2 separate regions of the Homo sapiens genome follow, and region 2 is linked to region 1. The links come from fine-mapping of genetic effects on gene expression. A gene starts in region 1. The other region holds a variant in brackets. All regions are shown on one strand. Distances are from middle to middle.

Region 1 (2,816 bases):
GAGCTCCGCGTTCCCGTCCAGCCCGTCGGGGTCGGGCCCGGTCCCCATGGGTCGCTCCTCGTTGGGGACCAAGGCCGCCTTCCTCTTGCCCTCGTTGGTCTTCCTCTCTGAGGGGTTTTCTTTGGGCGGTGCGCTTTGGGGAGGCGGGGTCCCAGCGGCTGGGCCGGACGCACGCTCCCGGGTCCGCCCCCGGTTCCGGGCCCGGGGCTTGGACTCCCCCGCGAATCCCGCGACGGTGGGGCGTGCGGGCGGGGACGCGCGGGGCACTAGCCGCAGCTCGGCGCCGTGGCCCTTCTTGCCCGCGCACAAGCGGGCCTGGAGCGGCGCGGGGTCGTGACAGGGCCTCCGCTTCTTGCGCAGCCCTCCCAGCACCTGCTTCCAGAAGTGCGCGCGGCGAGCGGCGTAGGCTGCGCAGCGCTCCGGATGCCCGCGGTAGGCGCACTGGTGGCGCGCCCCGTCCGGGCTCTGGCAGCGCAGCGCCAGCTCGCTGCCCGCTGCGGCCTCCGGGGCGGGCAGCAGGAGCTGCCAGCTGCACGCGTGCTGCTCGGGGCTGAGGAAGCGACCCGAGGAGCCGCCAGTGGGCCCGGGGACCGGCTCCGCCACGTTGCTAGCCGCCCCTTTCTCCCTCCGAGCAGCCGCGAGGAGGCAACCACTCAGCAGCAGCAGCAGCGACGGCGACAGCGACGCTCGCAGCTTCGGAGGAGTCATGCTCCGCGGTTTCCGCGCTCCGCTGTTCTCAGACCACGTTTGTCGGGGCTGGACCAGGCAAAGAGCATTCCCCAGGACCTGCGGACAGAGGCAGAGACTGCCACCAACTGAGCCACACGCAGCGCTTCGCCCAGACACATGCACCTGCGAACTACTCTTCCGCAGACTTTCTAGAATCTGCAGCCTGCGAGGAGACCCTCTGAGGAGCTTTCCTGGGGAAACTGCTTACTGTCTAAATAATCACTTTCGAACCATGTATGCATTGAGATTTTCTTCCCCTTGCAAATACGATAGCAAAACGATGCGTGATAATTGCCCCCTCTACCCCTTCCTTCATTTTCTCCCTTCTCCAACCTGCAATAAACTATCTACAAAATCATTTCAGATGATTCCTTGGAAACATGCACTTTACTACACTTTGAACTTACCGAGTTCTGGGAGAGGCGCCAAAGCCTTATTAGGGTAGAGGGAACGACTGCACGGGGGAGTAGTCTGTTTTAGCCGGCTCCCTGTGAATGAACGTGGTATCAATGGAACAGAAGAGGCCTACCCTTCTTCGCCCCTCCCCGATTTCTCTCACACTGGGAGACTTATCACCGCCGCGCTTCTCTCTCTCTCTCCCTCTCTCTCTCTGTCTCTCCAGATGGATGATGGAAGCGGTCCTGTAGTATGAAATACAAATCTTGTATTTTGCTTCCAATGTTTAAAATAATCAGGCAAAATTAACCAAGTTTTTCTTCTTTCATGTACTTAACCATCCAAAAAATAAAAATTAAACAAAAGATCTAAGTTTTAAAAGTTAAATAAAATGAAACAAAACAAACTTCAGTATTCTAAACTAGGCATTTTTTACACAATTATATCATTTACATTCTATTTCTCATATTCTGAGTTCTACATTTTTACCTATTATTTCCAATAGCCTTTCTTAAGACTCTCAATCTTAATAATTGTTACTACTAATAAAAATATAATATCCTAGTTTATTAACATACAATAGTGCCCAGCAGTTCACCCAGGAGTGGACATTTGGGCTTTTTATTATTTTTAGGTATTAGAAATCAGTTATAAGGGTCCTCCAAAAATTAGAAGTTTAAAAAAATTATTTGTATTATAGTAGTTGAACGGTAAGATTACCAATTGAAATGGTATAATAGTTAAGAATGTGAGACCAGCCTGGCCTGGTGAAATCCCGTCTCTACTAAAAATACAAAAATTAGCCAGGCGTGGTGGCAGATGCCTGTAATCCCAGCTACTCAGGAGGCTGAGGCAGGAGAATCACTTGAACCCGGGACAGGGCGAGACTGCCTCTCAAAAAAAAAAAAAAAGAGAGAGAGAATGAATGTGTTCTTGAATCTTGAAAATGTTACATTTAAGCAAAGCTGCTTTTTCTGGAGGGGGGGATTGTGTGTGTGTGCGGGGGTTTGTTTGTTTGTTTGTTTGTTTGTTTGTTTTGAGACGGGAGCTCACTCTGTCACCCAGGCTGGAGCGCAGTGGTGCTATCTCGGCTCACTGCAACCTCTGCCTTCCCGGTTCAAGCGATTCACCTGCCTCAGCCTCCCCAGTAGCTGGAATTACAGGTGCCTGCCACAACACCCAGCTAATTTTTAGTGGAGAAGGGGTTTCACCATGTTGCCCAGTCTGGTATCGAACTCCTGACCTGAGATGAGCCACCTGCCTCAGCCTCTCAAAGTGCTGACCAAGCAAAGCTGTTTTTTCTTTCTTTTTTTTTTTTTTTGCTCTTTTTAAAATTTTTATTTAGAAGCCTACTTGTAGAAGTTAGCATAATTTTACAGATTATTAGAAAAATTCAATTATTTTCTCTCTGCAAACAGTTATAATAGGTTAGGAATAATAGATTAGAAATGTACTACATTGCAAAAACAGTGGCCTATAACTATCTGTACATTTACTGTGCACCTTAAGGAAAAGAATTTGACAGTGTGCTATACTTACACTGCAGGTAACATATTTTTATTCTATCACACAAAACTGACCAGTGGTAGTGCTTGAATTTATAAATGGCCATTAAACAGAATATTTAAACTGAGATGTATATTTAGCATGCTAAAAAGTGAAAAAAATTTCAACTGAAGTTCTGTGGCTCA
Region 2 (2,816 bases), 300 kb before region 1:
GCCCAGGCAGATGTCTAGCCAGTAAACATGACATTAGTGATCCCCTTAGCACCCCCAACTCTCCTTTGGCTTGGAGGAGGGAAAACCCCTGTTCCTGGTCCTGCTCCTGGGAATATGCTCACAAGGAACTCTGTACCTCCTCCAGGCTGAAAACTCTGAGCCCCTTATTCCAGCCCAGACTTCTCCTTACAGACCCAGGACAGGGGCAGGGTTGGTGGTATTAAGGCCAGTTCTGCCACTGCATTGCTGAAGGCTGGTTAAGAGCTCTCTTTAGAAAACCAGAGTGCTTAGCACTTTCTGGGTCACCTTTGGGCAATGGCAGCCATTCCAAGACAACAGAACAAAATCTCACTCACACCCTATTACATAGAATTCTAATTGTGAGATGTGTGAGAAAGGAAAAGAACAGGGTGCTATGAGAGGAAATGCCCATGCTCAGGATCACACTTCTGGATCTCAAATCCCAGCTCTGCCCCTTATTAACTGTGTGATCTTGGGCAGGTTACTTCGCCTCTCTGTGCCTCAGCTTCCTTATTTGTAAAATGGTGATGATAACAGTACATACCTCATAGGACGAAATGAGAAAATGTAAACAAAACTCTTAACATAGCGCCTGTCACATTAATAAATGCTCAGTAAACGTAAGTTCCCTGAGGGATCCAGGCACCTCACAGGCACCCAACAACACTTGATGAAATAATGAATGAGGTAGTGAGACCCCATCTCTACAAAAAATTAAAAATTAGCCAAATATGGTGGCACATGCCTATAGTTCCAACTACCTGGGAAGCTGAGGTAGGAGGATCACTTGAGCCCAAGAGGTTGAGGCTGCAGTGAGCTGTGATCATGCTACTGTACTCCAGCCTGGGCAACAGAGCAAGACTCTGCCAAAAAAAAAAAAAAAAAAAAAAACACAGAATTACACTTACACATAGATTTTCTTTCTTTCTTTTTTTTTTTTTTTTTTTTGAGTTGGAGTCTCGCTCTGTCGCCCAGGCTGGAATGCAGTGGCGCGATCTCGGCTCACTGCAAGCTCCGCTTCCCGTGTTCACGCCATTCTCCTGCCTCAGCCTCCTGAGTAGCTGCGACTACAGGCGCCTGCCACAGCGCCCGGCTAATTTTTTTTGTATTTTTTTTAGTAGAGACGGGGTTTCACCGTGTTAGCCAGGATGGTCTCAA[TCTCCTGAC/T]CTCGTGATCCCCCTGCCTCGGCCTCCCAAAGTGCTGGGATTACAGGCGTGAGCCACCGTGCCCGGCCTACACATAGATTTTCAATCCATATTAGAAAGGCTAACAAGGGCCATATTATGTGTAGTTTGAGAAAAGAGAGGGCAGGAATATATCTTACTTCTGTAGATTCAGTGCCTACCACGTAGTAGAAGCTCAGTCAATCTTTTTTTTTTTTTTTGCGTTGAACTGAAAATAATTATGTTATGCTGAAATCCCTCCCATGGAACCCAGGGGATATTGGTGAAATTAAACCACATAAAACTTGAGTAGTGTTAATGTTTTGTTCATAACTTTCATGAATTTTGCATATATTTCATGGCATTTACATTAAATTCATAAATAAAATCTTAAAAAATAATAATGAATGAGGGAGAATGGCTGGGAATACCTATTTTAGATGGGGTAGTCAGAGAAGACCACTCTGAGAAGGTGACACTTAAGCTTTGACATAGATGATAAGACAGAAGTCAGCTGAAGAGCAAAGGGATCATATTGCCCTGGAATCAGATTACAGAATAGACCTAGAAAATTCGCCTTTGACATTTTAATACCATGTATAAATACAGGGTTATAAGATATTATTCCCTCTGGACCAAAGATTGTCATAACACCCAGGAGCCAAAGTCCTCCAGATACCTCTGTCTCCATCACAGCAGCTCTAACTGTGCAGTTATTTGCCACCAAGGCAGTTCCTTTGGGGGTTTCTTTCCATTTTTTTAAAGTTGTTAGTCAGGACTTTGGTAGCAATGAGCTCAAGATCCTGGCTAGATGGTAAGTCAGATTTCACATGATCTAAACAGTCAGAGCCAGAGAGTGTCAGCTACCACAAGGAAGAGAGTATATCATAAATCCAGAGTAGACATATGAACAAGCAGTTTATAGACTGGGCTTACCCAAAGATTAATTTTGAAGGTCATATCATCCAACAGAGTACATAACTGGACACTTGAGTCTGTGCATGTCTCTGGTTACAGCTGGTTTTAGTTACTTTGAGTCTGGTCAGCATTATAAATGGTCAGCATTATAAATGGCTGGGATAAAGTATCTGCCGGAGGAATTGGCATAAGCATGTGACTCACCAGCCCCTCTGACTCATGGGACACACAGTTGTCCTGAGCTATTAATCCATTGACAGAGCATGAGTGAGACAGAGGGGCTGTGAGAAGCTGTACTGACAAATAGCCGGAAGCACCCACTGCCCATCGTTATGACTGTATCCTTTTGTGATATGGAGCATCGATATCTTTTGTTGCTGTGATAGGAAGTTTTTGGCATAGGTGTGGCCTGATCATTGTTTTCAAGCACACTAAACCTAGATGGTGATATAATGGAATTGTTGACACTGTTCCCAAGACAGCAGGATGTCTCCACCCTGGTTTGATGGTGTTCATTTAGATAAATAAGGGCTGGGATACTGTGCTAGGAGTCAGAAAGGCAGTGTGGTGTAGGTGCCTATTGTTGTAGGTGGTGGTATCAGCAAGGGGAGTTCATTACATGGTGCCAATTAGAATGTCCAAGGAGGTTGGTTTCCATGTTAAATAGGATTGACCTTTCTGTCACCCAGAAGCCCAAGTGTAAGCACTAAGAAT

Which allele goes with the higher level. Positions count from the first base shown, and alleles are read on the strand shown. Sizes are in standard deviations (SD) of each study's normalised expression.
For the expression in tibial artery of the gene that starts at base 1,225 in region 1, allele TCTCCTGAC in region 2 goes with a lower level than allele T (small effect, 0.19 SD a copy in GTEx).

What was found.
Region 2: its variant is fine-mapped to the expression of FGFBP3 in tibial artery (GTEx, PIP 0.98).

Annotation. Positions count from the first base shown.
Region 1 is chr10:91,908,262-91,911,077 of GRCh38, forward strand. It overlaps FGFBP3 (fibroblast growth factor binding protein 3), which reads right to left and starts at 1,225. Exons shown (of 2, transcript NM_152429.5): 1 at 1,137-1,225; 2 at 1-786. The coding sequence starts at 708. FGFBP3-AS1 (FGFBP3 antisense RNA 1) reads left to right here. Exons shown (of 2, transcript NR_199602.1): 2 at 636-1,087. RefSeq lists a silencer at 98-667 and an enhancer at 571-865.
Region 2 is chr10:91,611,506-91,614,321 of GRCh38, forward strand. No RefSeq gene overlaps it. Among named protein-coding and RNA genes, the nearest start is that of HECTD2-AS1, 1.5 kb to the left of the region's middle. The variant TCTCCTGAC/T (reference allele first, on the strand shown) is at 1,180.